Homo sapiens: one gene and its partner. The protein of the gene in region 2 interacts with the protein of the main gene of each other region in a pairwise test. Each region holds a gene or a part of one and is shown on either strand. Other genes may lie near its edges.

What was found. The genes of interacting proteins can lie anywhere in the genome.
Region 1: the proteins of MLIP (region 2) and ABLIM2 interact in a two-hybrid assay, tested with the Homo sapiens proteins (one large-scale study listed by BioGRID).

What each region holds. Positions count from the first base shown.
Region 1 is NC_000004.12:8,022,357-8,027,411, reverse strand, and holds part of ABLIM2 (actin-binding LIM protein 2), read left to right. Parts: intron 1-5,055. UniProt on the Homo sapiens protein: May act as scaffold protein. May stimulate ABRA activity and ABRA-dependent SRF transcriptional activity.
Region 2 is NC_000006.12:54,137,695-54,143,282, reverse strand, and holds part of MLIP (muscular LMNA-interacting protein), read right to left. Parts: coding exon 4,997-5,588; intron 1-4,996. UniProt on the Homo sapiens protein: Required for myoblast differentiation into myotubes, possibly acting as a transcriptional regulator of the myogenic program. Required for cardiac adaptation to stress through integrated regulation of the AKT/mTOR pathways and FOXO1.

The DNA.
Region 1 (5,055 bases), on a different chromosome or scaffold from region 2:
TGCTCTCAGGGTTTGTGTTCAGGAGCAGAAGCTACGCTGTACGGAGGGCCCTGACTCTTCCACAGCCCCAGAGCTCCTGGGGCCCAGGGCAGGGTTCACACCCAGTGTGGCTCCAACTCTCGGCTCTTCCAGGAGTGGATGAGCCATCCACATCCCTGCACGGGCACCCACATGCTGGTCACGCAGGGAAACGGCCACGCTCATGTTTTCCTGTATGCTGTGGACTGAAAAATGCATCCCCCACATTCATAGAGCCCTAATTCCTGACGTGACTGTATCTGTAGAGGGGGCCTTTAAAGAGGTGATCAGTTAGATGAGGTCCTCAGGGTGGGCACAGATCCCATAGTACTGACATCTTTATAAGAAGAGAAGAGACGCCAAAGCTCGCTCCCTCTCCACACACACTCAGGTAAAAGGCCACTGCAGACACACACTCAGATAAAAGGCCACTGCAGACACACACACTCAGGTAAAAGGCCACTGCAGACACACACACTCAGGTAAAAGGCCACTGCAGACACACACACTCAGGTAAAAGGCCACTGCAGACACACACACTCAGGTAAAAGGCCACTGCAGACACAGCGATGTCTGCAAGCCAGGAAAAACAGTCTCAGGAGAAGCCACACCCTGCCAGACCTGGCTCAGAGATGTGCAGCCTCCAGCACTGTGAGAGGAAATATGCCTGTTGTTTAAGCCACACAGGCTGTGGTATTTTGTGACACAGCCCAGCTGACTGGTGCACCACAGAAAGACACTCAGAACATTAGAGGAGGCAGCAATGATGTTCTTGCCAATTCCCCAAGCAATGCAATAATTCCCCATCCTGAGCAGCTGCTGAGTGGGAATGTCTCTGGAAAAGCCTCCCAGGCCGCAGGCAGCGAGAAGGTGGGGCAGGCAGCTGGACTCTCCATCACTGGATGGTCACCAAACAGGGTTCATTCAGACCTGCACACCTCTCCGTGTACCTCATCATCATTGCTTTGGGCGGGCCCCGTGGCCTACTGAGAGTTCCTGGCCATTGATGGACATGGCCGTCCTCATTTTTCTGAGGGCCTGTCCCTACAGCTTTGGGATGATCTGACTCCTTTGAGAAGAAGCAAAGTCTTCACCTGGGTGCAATGGCTCATACCTGTAATCCCACTGCTTTGGGAGGCCCAAGCAGGAGAATCACTTGAGGCCAAGAGTTTAAGACCAGCCTGGGAAACCTGGTGAGACCCTTTGTCTGAAAAAAGAAAAACGCCGGGCATGGTGGTGCATGCCTGTAATCCCAACTCCTCGGAAGGCTGAGGCAGGAGGATTGCTTCGGCCAGCAGTTTGAAGCTGCAGTGAGCTACGATTGTGCCACTGCACTCCAGCCTGGACAACAGAGTAAGACCCTGTCTCAGACAACAACAAACAAACAAGCAAAGCCAGAAAGGGCCCCTCCCCAGAACAGAAGCATGGCCAGCAGGGGCTTTGCTGCGTGTGGTCCACGGCAGTCGTGTGGCAGGGGGCGGTCCTGAAACCCAGAGTGAATCAACCATTTGGGTGAGTCACGGCAGGGCACCCAAGGAGATGCCGCTTCTCCTGTTGCTCCATGCCAGGAGGCCCTGGACACCCGGCTCTCCTCCCACCTTCAGCCCTCCTTCTGGTGTGGCTGTCCCAACTGTGAGTCCCTGAGAGGGAAGTGGCCAGAGCCGAGGGCAGGCTCACCCCGCTCCCCAGGCAGCCCCTGTGAGCAGCCTCTGTGGGTCCTAGAGCCAGAGCCAGCCCTGGCGACCCTCCCCTCCTCTGCCCCGTCCTGAGTGTCCACCGTCTAATTCTTACCACTTCAGGGTGAAGAAGGCCCAGGACAGGCCCCCTGGGGAGCAGCCCCCTCCTCAGCTCCCGAGACAGCCAAGGAGAGAGCCCAAGGACTGGCAGCCCTCTCCCCTTCCTTCCACGCCTTGTAGCAGAGGAGGGTGCCCACCTACCCACCACCAGTTTGGAGGCTACCCACCTACCCACCACCCCCCACCACAATGTGGCTCCGAAGCCGTCTATGCCACAGCCCCTCCAAGGGCATCTCCCGGGGCCAGGAGGCACCTTCCCTTTGAGACCTCCCCTGGGTGGGGCCAGGTTTTTGCCTCTTTGATGCCCATCTCTGCCCTGGTTCCCCCGGCCACATTGCCTGCCAGTGCCCTTCGTTCAGAAATCACATGAGGCCAGGCGTGGTGGCTCACCCCTGTAATCCCAGCACTTTGGGAGGCCAAGGTGGGCGGATCACCTGAGGTCAGGAGTTCGAGACCAGCCTGGCCAACATGGTGAAACCACGTCTCTACTAAAAATACAAAAATTAGCCGGGTGTGGTGGCGCACCTGTGGTCCCAGCTATTAGGGAGGCTGAGGCGGGAGGATTGCTTGAATCCAGGAGGCGGAGGTTGCAGTGAGCTGAGACTGAGCCACTGCACTCCATCCAGCCTGGGCAACAGAGCGAGACTACATCTCAAAAAAAGAGAAAAAAGAAATCACAAAAAGCCACCTGGCCACCTCTCTGGTGTCTGGTGTGGGGGAGCCTGGCACCCATGCTCTGCCCCTACTAGACTCCCCTGGCTGTCCGTAACCTTGGGAACACCCAGCCTCTTTCCAGAATGTACTCCTGAGGGAACTGAGGCTCAGAAGAGAAGCCACTGGCCAAGATCCCAAAGCTCCTTCTGGCAGAGCCCAAGGTCAGGCTTCTACCCGGGGTCCCGTTCACAAATTGTGTTCACCCTCAGGTCCTGGGTCGACCTCGGAGGCCACACGAAGGTGCCTGTCCTCCTCTGCAGCCATGGGCTCCAGTGTGTCCCAGCCTAGGACCTCTTGGTGGCAGCCCCCAGGGGTCAGCTGGACACCAGGCAGCGTCGCCTGCCCTCTGGGAAAGCCCTTCCTGTTTGCTCCCCGGGCTCCTCTGGCGTCTCTGGCCCCTCTCAGTGGACATTTCCCTCCGGACGGCACTGTACGGGGGCGGCTGCCCGAGGCAAGGCCTGGCCCCACCCCCCACCGAATGCTGGCAGGGCCTCACCCCCGGCACACCTTCCCACCAAGACCCAGCTTCCAGAGTGGTGCTGGCCACAGCCATGGGCACTTTTGTGTGAATTTCAGTTTGGCGTGTCCCCTGTGGAGGAGCCGACAGCGGGGGCAGGAAGTGCAGGCTGGGAGGGGAGTCGGTGCTGCTGAAGCCTCTGGCCAGGCAGCCTCCATGTGCTGAGCGGTGGGCCCACTCTGAACCCCTGGCCTGAGAAGGAAGGAGGGAGGGGCCCTGGGATGGAGCCTCAGGTCCAGGCCCGCACCCTCCACTGCCCAGACCCCGGCAGCGCCTCTTCATCTTGCTGAGCGGCCATTCCTTCAGCTGCAAAAGGTCCTCATAACTGAAGCATCGTCCTCAGGGTGATTGTGGTTGAGGACCCAGGATGTGGCTGTGCATTGCAGCATGGGCATCATCCTACCTGGCCTGCCCGTGGCCACCAGCTGGCCTCTCTGCGGTGTCACCTGGAGGAGGCTCCACAGGAGCCAGCTGAGCCAGCACCAGGCACACACTGGGCCACTGGGAGCACCACGATGAAGGATGTGTCATTGGATTGTAAACTAGAGTATAATAGCAAGAGCCGTCAGTCCACAAGGATCTACATAAATGTTGAGTAAACAAATAAATGGAGAGAAAGCGAGATCTCCCACACAGAGGAATTCCAAATAACGGGAGTAGATGCCTCGTCCTCCAGGAGGGGGTCGTAACTCCCACTCCTGACATGTGGACAAGTGTGGGCTACACAGAGTGGCTCCTTCCCGAGAGCGCCATGTGGGAGGGGAGAGAAGGAGCAAGTCCACCGTGGAGCAGGCCACCATGGCTGACGAGCATGACCCGGTCAGCAAGGCCGCCACGGCCAGTGATCCGCTCTGCTGACAGCAGGTGCCCTTGATAGGATGTGGTGAGGACACTTCACCTCATGGGCTTCCTTCTCAACCCCATAAGCCCAGTATCGCCATGAGAAAACATCAGGCAAAAACCCTCAGCAGCCCTCCTCAAAACTGCCAGAGTCCTCAGACACAAGGAACGTCTGCAAAAGGTCGCAGCCGAGAGGAGCCTTGGGAGACGTGCCGACAGAACGTCATGTTTCCTGGGTGGGATCCTGGAGCGGAAGAACATCAGGTGACACCCGGGGAAACCCGAATCCCGTGCGGCGTGCAGGTGGCACCAATCTGTGGGCACCCTAGTGATGGGAGAGGGGACGGCAGGGACGCGGGCCGGGAGGGTGCGGGAGCCCCCTGGACTACCTGAAGCTGTTCCTAATGAAACATTTACTGAAATTTTTAAAAATGGAAGAGGAGAGGAGGGGGAGGAGGAAGAGGAAAAAGTAGAGAAGAAGGAGGAGGAGGAGGAGAAAGAGGAAAAAGTGAAGGAGGAAGAGGAGGAGGAGAAAGGAAAAAGAGGAAGAGGAGGCAGAGGAGGAAGAGGAAAAAGAAGAGGAGGAGGAGGAGGAAGAGGAAAAAGTGGAGGAGGAAGAAGAGGAGAAGGAAGACTTTTCGAAAGGGCTGAAGCTGCTCCTCTCCTAACAGGCAGCATCCCAGGTTAAAGGATGCTGAAGCATCCCCGTCTGTAGCATATCAGAAGCCCCCTGGGATGTGAGCCTAGCAGCACAGTGCTCCAGGTGGGAGCTGGCGATGCATTTTGTTCCAACGAAGCCTCACAGGCAGCAGGCAGGCATGAGTGCAGAGGAGGGAGAGGTCCTCAGAGACCAAGTCCTACCAGAAGGCTGAGCAGAGGAGGCAGAGCCTGAACCTGGACCCAGGAAGGGTCCGGACAGGTGGGAAGCCCTGGAGAGGACACTCGTCAAGGGGCGGGGTGCTGGGAGGGAGGGACCGAGGTGGCAGGACTCGGGCTGGTGTTAGAGGGCCCTGGGGGGCCAGAATGAGGTGGGCCAACATGGCTGTGTCCCCAGCTTCCCTGCGGCCTCAGGCCCCTCCAAGTATCTGATGAAAGCTGATGAGTCTCCGGACCCTCCTCAAATAGACGTGCACATGTGTCCACAGACTCTGGTTTGAAACTTCAGGGGAT
Region 2 (5,588 bases):
TTGCGCCATTGCACTCCAGCCTGGACGCCAAGAGCGAAACTACACCTCAAAAAAAAAAAAAAAAAGCAAATCCCCCCAGGGAGTGCGGGGTTAGAGAGGAAGACAAGCTTTTGTCAATCATTGAACACCTGAGTGCGAACCGTTACTAGGATCAATTCAGAGAGGCTAGCTGGAGAGAAGCACAGGAGTGGTACACAGAACTGGTCAGTATAGAGGCCGAGTGACAGATAGCATAGCTGAAAGAAGCCTGGAAAGTCAAGGATTCTCAAGAACTTTGTGAAGGGAGTGGAGTAAATGACAGTGAGATAAAAAGAGAAAAACAAAATAAGAAAGCACATAAGGCTAGTTTCAGCGTTTTTTTTTTGTTGTTGTTGTTTTTTTCATTTCACGTAGTGGCTCTGATGTTTGGTGAATGTTTGTTACTCTGCCTACAAAACATAATGGAAATCTTATCTTCACCTTCACTGCTATAACTTGACCATAGCCACCATCATCACTCACCTAGATGGTAGCAATAGACTTCTAAGTTCTCCCAGCTTAAACTTTCACCCTCTCATGGTCTATTCTTATTTAGCAGTGAGATAGTTAAGATGGTCACTTATCTATTTGAAACCCTCCAAAGACTTCCTGTCTTACTTAAAGTAAAAATCAAAGACTAAAGAGTGGCCCACAAGACCCTCCTACAGGATCCGGCTCCCAGCTACATCTCCCTCTGACAACCTCAACATCCTGTTCCTCACTGCTAGCCCAGAATGTGTTCTTTGTACCTGTCAAGCACTCTCTGGCCTCAGAGCATCTTCCTCACTATACTCTCTTAAGGAGTATCACCTCCTTGGATGTTACATTCTCAAAGAAACCTATCCCAATACCCCAACATAACTTGTGACACCATCCCTTCTCTATTTCCCTTGAGAATCAGGGATATACTTTTCTCTATGACACATATGACCTTCTGACACACACAATAATTTACTTATTTGGAGGGGTTATTATTGATTGTTTCTCTTCCACCAAAGAATATAAACTGTCTTTGAACAGGCATCATTGCATATTTTATTTATTGCAATATCCTCACAGCTTTGAAAAGCACACCTATTAGGTAATCAATACATATTTATTGAATGACTGATTTGCTTGAACCCAGATTAACTATTTTATCTCAGGCAGACACATTCCATATTGCTCATTTTCCAAATTACATGTGGTTCTGCAGAAATGAAGAAAGTCACAGATAGACTGCTGCCACTAAGTTTTCAGTGTGATGTATTTGGGAATGTTTTGATGTCTTAAAGGAAGGAGACTTTTGTGAATAAAACACCAGTTATAAAGTTTTATGAAATATAAAATAGCTCTCAACTTGTTCCCTAAATAAGCTATGTGTCCAAATAGCTTTAAGCCCAGGGCAGGCCCATGAATGGAGAGTCTTTATAATTGGAACTAATCTTCAGACTGTCTTCGGTAAGTGGCAGACTCTACGAGGCTTTGATGAAATGCTTACCCTAATTTCCATATGGACCACCATACTAATTCACTAGGATAAAAATTTAAATTCTTTTATAAATGAAGGCAGAACAGATTGGGGACCCAGACACAACTCCATGGGTGAATTTTGTAATATCCAGTCTTTTGCATGGGAAAAAAAAGTCTCAGACAATATAGATGTTGATCAAAAAGTAGGCCAGGCATGGTGGCTCACGCCTGTAATCCCAGCACTTTGGGATGCCGAGGCAGGCGGATCACTTGTGGTCAAAAGTTCAAGACCAGCCTGGCCAACATGGTGAAACCCCGTCTCTACTAAAAATACAAAAATTAGCCGGATGTTATGGTGCACACCTGTAATCCCAGCTACTTGGGAGGCTGAGGCAGGAGAATCATTTGAACCCAGGAGGCAGAGGTTGCAGTGAGCCAAGATCACACCACTACACTGCAGCCTGGGCGACACAGTGGGACGTGTCTCAAAAAAAAAAAAAGGCAGGCTGAGCAGCATTCAGATGCCCATCCTATCTAAAGCAATGATTATAATGTGAAATAGTATTTTAAACTACATCTGAATTTAACATATCATAGCAATTATATCACACAAATGCAAGCAGATTCAGAACCTTAAGATTTTATGTATGAAAAAGGAACATCAAACACACTTTATATCTGAATTTAGCTCAGCATACTATGGTTGATCCATTTTATTTTAATATCAAAGGACAGTAGAGCCCAGACTTTAAACTAATATCCTCCAAGCACTCATGTTTTAATTAGATGCCATCTGTATTCTATGATCCCTGTTATTTCAGAATCTCAGAGTGAGTAAAGCTGACCTAAATCTAAAGCTCTTTGATTTCAAAAAGAGTCCTGTGCTCAGCTTAGCATCACACTGGAAGGAGCAAGACAAGAAACAACCCATGAAAGCATATAAATTCTTCAATATCACACAGCATTTGTCTATTTCTTCCTATCATTCTGTAAAATAATGTTACCAATTTAAACACTAGCCAAACATCAAAAGAGCTTGGGATAAGATTTATCTATTCCACATCCATTTTAATAAGTTTTTTATACTCAAGATACGATTTCTGAAAATAATAGATTGTAATAAAAAAAAGTAGGCTGACTTTCTGATTTTTACCTAAAGAGATAATATAGCAAGATGCAAGGAGAAAATAAACATGAAAAAGAATAGCATTGTCTCATAGTCCATACTATTCTATTTTTGCAGAAGCTATTATAAATTTTACCCATGATAAGAAGCTTTTTTTTCTGTTCAAAGAAATCTATTGATATTTTTACTGGTAGTTAAATTATAATCATTCTTATTTTCCTGTTCATCAAATTTACTTTGCATTTCTTTGAATTTTCTTTACTTGGAAATTCTTTAAAAAGTAAAAAGCAAATGCTGAAAATTTTTCAATGTTGGGTGCAGGAAGAGAGCCCCAAAACAATAGGTCTTCAATAAATATGCCTTTAATGTATCAAAAGCCCTTTGGGGCTCACCCTCTTCCAACTCTCTGACTATATCCAAAACAGGAGAAAACATAAAGTGTGGTGAAACACACATAGAAATGCTTTGAAAAAGCTTCTAGAGTGAAATCACTTTTCACAAAAAAAGAATAAGTATATGGCATCATGGTTCAAAAAATGATAGTTAATGCACTCAGGAAACAGTAATGATTAGATTGTGAGTTCGTTTTAAATACTCTACAAATAAATTTTATAATCACATATATGTATTTAAAATATAATAAACAGGTCAATTTACCTCAAATAAGTAGGATTGTCAATTGAGAATCACAGAAAAAGTTAAATTTTATCCATCTCATTTTCTTTGAATGTTTAAAATACAAGGACTTAATCTCCAATACATTTTTTAAATGACCCCAAAATTATATAAATTGGGAATTCTGGTTATAATTCCTTAATAATGATTTTCTTCATGAGAATTGTAAAGTCAGGCTAAATTGCTAACATGAGTTATTTCTTTGTAGCAATAAATGATAGTAATAAAGAACATGGCTTCAAGAATCAACAGACTTAACATTACATAAATGTCAGCTCCGAAACAGACCCATTACCTGGACAATTATTCACTGAACTTCAGTTTTTTGGTGTACAAAATAGGGAAAATAGTATTATCAACTTCATATAGTTACAAAACTTAACTGATGTAATCCATTTTAATTAATTTTTCAACTATTTTGTATACTAGCATAGTTCCTGACTCACAGAAAGCATTTGATATTGCTGCTATTATTACCGTCAGATTATAAGGCTAATCGTCTTATGTCTCCACACACAGACTTCTGAGATCATCTTCTGTATATTTGGTCAGATTGTTTTCCATTTCTGAAATGCCAACTTCTTTCCTCTTCATTAAGTTAAATCCTAAATATTTCCGACAGGCCTGACATTTTTTATAACTTCCCTTACTAACCATGTTCCATCACATTACTCCTGTTATATTGAACTCAGTTGATGATTATTTATAATCTGACTTACACAATTAATTTTGCCTTATATTGGTTTTCTAGCTGTACTGTAGATTTAATAACTGTATATAGCCTCTCCAAATTGTGTATATTTTTTTCTACTGATTAAAATTGAATTATTCTAAGACAAAAAAAATCTCTTACTTCCCTTTAAAAGAAACCACACACACTCTAAAGAAAGCTAGTATAGTGGTACACATATAGCAGGTATTTAATGCATGTTTTTGACTTGAATTGTTTTGTGACATCATTTACAAGATAATGAGGGTCACTTTATCCCTTCAACGTGACATTCATCATCTGAAAAGTGACAGTGAAACATACTCTCCATGGTATTTCAAAGCTCTAAAACTACATTATTTCAATGTGCTGAGCTGAAAATCACCACCCCTTCTTATGCAGGCACTTTAACTGTTTTGTTTTATTGATATAACAGCTATCAAATTCTGGGTATGGGTGATCCACAATCTGAATTACTTGAGAATAGTTGGGAAGCCAGCATGCCTTAGTGTAGAGTTGCTTTCTGCTACGAGAACGTGCTTGGCTATGTCACAGGCCTAGATCTAAGATAATATTCCATTTTATATTAATCCTGTCTACTATTCCATCAGTACAGGATATTTGGATGGATGCTAGGGTCCCTGTTAATAAACAATCAGAAACATATCATAGTCCTGAATCTCTACTACTTGCTTTTAATTCTGTCATTAGGGCCAATGATATAACTCATATTATGTCTGAGGAAAAATAATACCCTTGGAGTCATAGATATAAGAAGTTAGGAAGAGAAAGAGGATTTTCAAAATCAAAGGATTTGACTGAAACACATAATTCTATACAGATTATAATTCATTTACACATTCAAATATACCAAGTCCTGGTACCGTCTTGCACTTTTTCTTCCTCCTTGTAGGAGTACAATTAATACTATAATTATTGATTTCTGCCTTGGGGAAAAAAAAAAGATTCTTCCCTGTTTCAAAATAAGCATGCACCATGCAACATGCAAAAAATACCTTTGATTTCTTATTTTCTGGGCCTGTTGACATGGACAATGCACAAGGTGAAATCAGCTCCTCTGTCCTTGTTAGAGATATGGGAAGTGATGGGGTTGAAACAGGTGACCTGTGGTTGGGGGTGGTGCTTTCAGATTTCCCAAGTCTTGAAGGCAAGGTACCACTGCCGCAATGTGGGTGCAGAGCTGAGGGACTGAGCTGGGGCACCAGGGTGGGCAGATTGGCATGAGGGAGAGAGGAGGACCTCAAGTTGGGAAGAGAGGCAAAGTCAGCACTGGAGACAGGGAGTGAAGGAAGAGCTGAAGGATTCAGCTCCTGGCCAGATAGTTGGGATGATGCTCTTTTAGATCTGTTTATCAGGCTTGAAAGAGCTGGGGAAGGATGGAAACATTTCTCTGAAGAAGAGAACGTAGCTCTTTGATTAATAGGAGGAGATAGAGAAGATAATGCAGAGGAGGCTAATGTAGAAGGGTACGTGTGAATGTTTCTGGGGTTTTCTGGACCCCTGAGGTCACCATCCTGTTTACTCTTCAAAGAGGAAAGAGAAGAGCTTGGTGGAACAGGAGGAAGACCCACAGAACTGGATGTACTG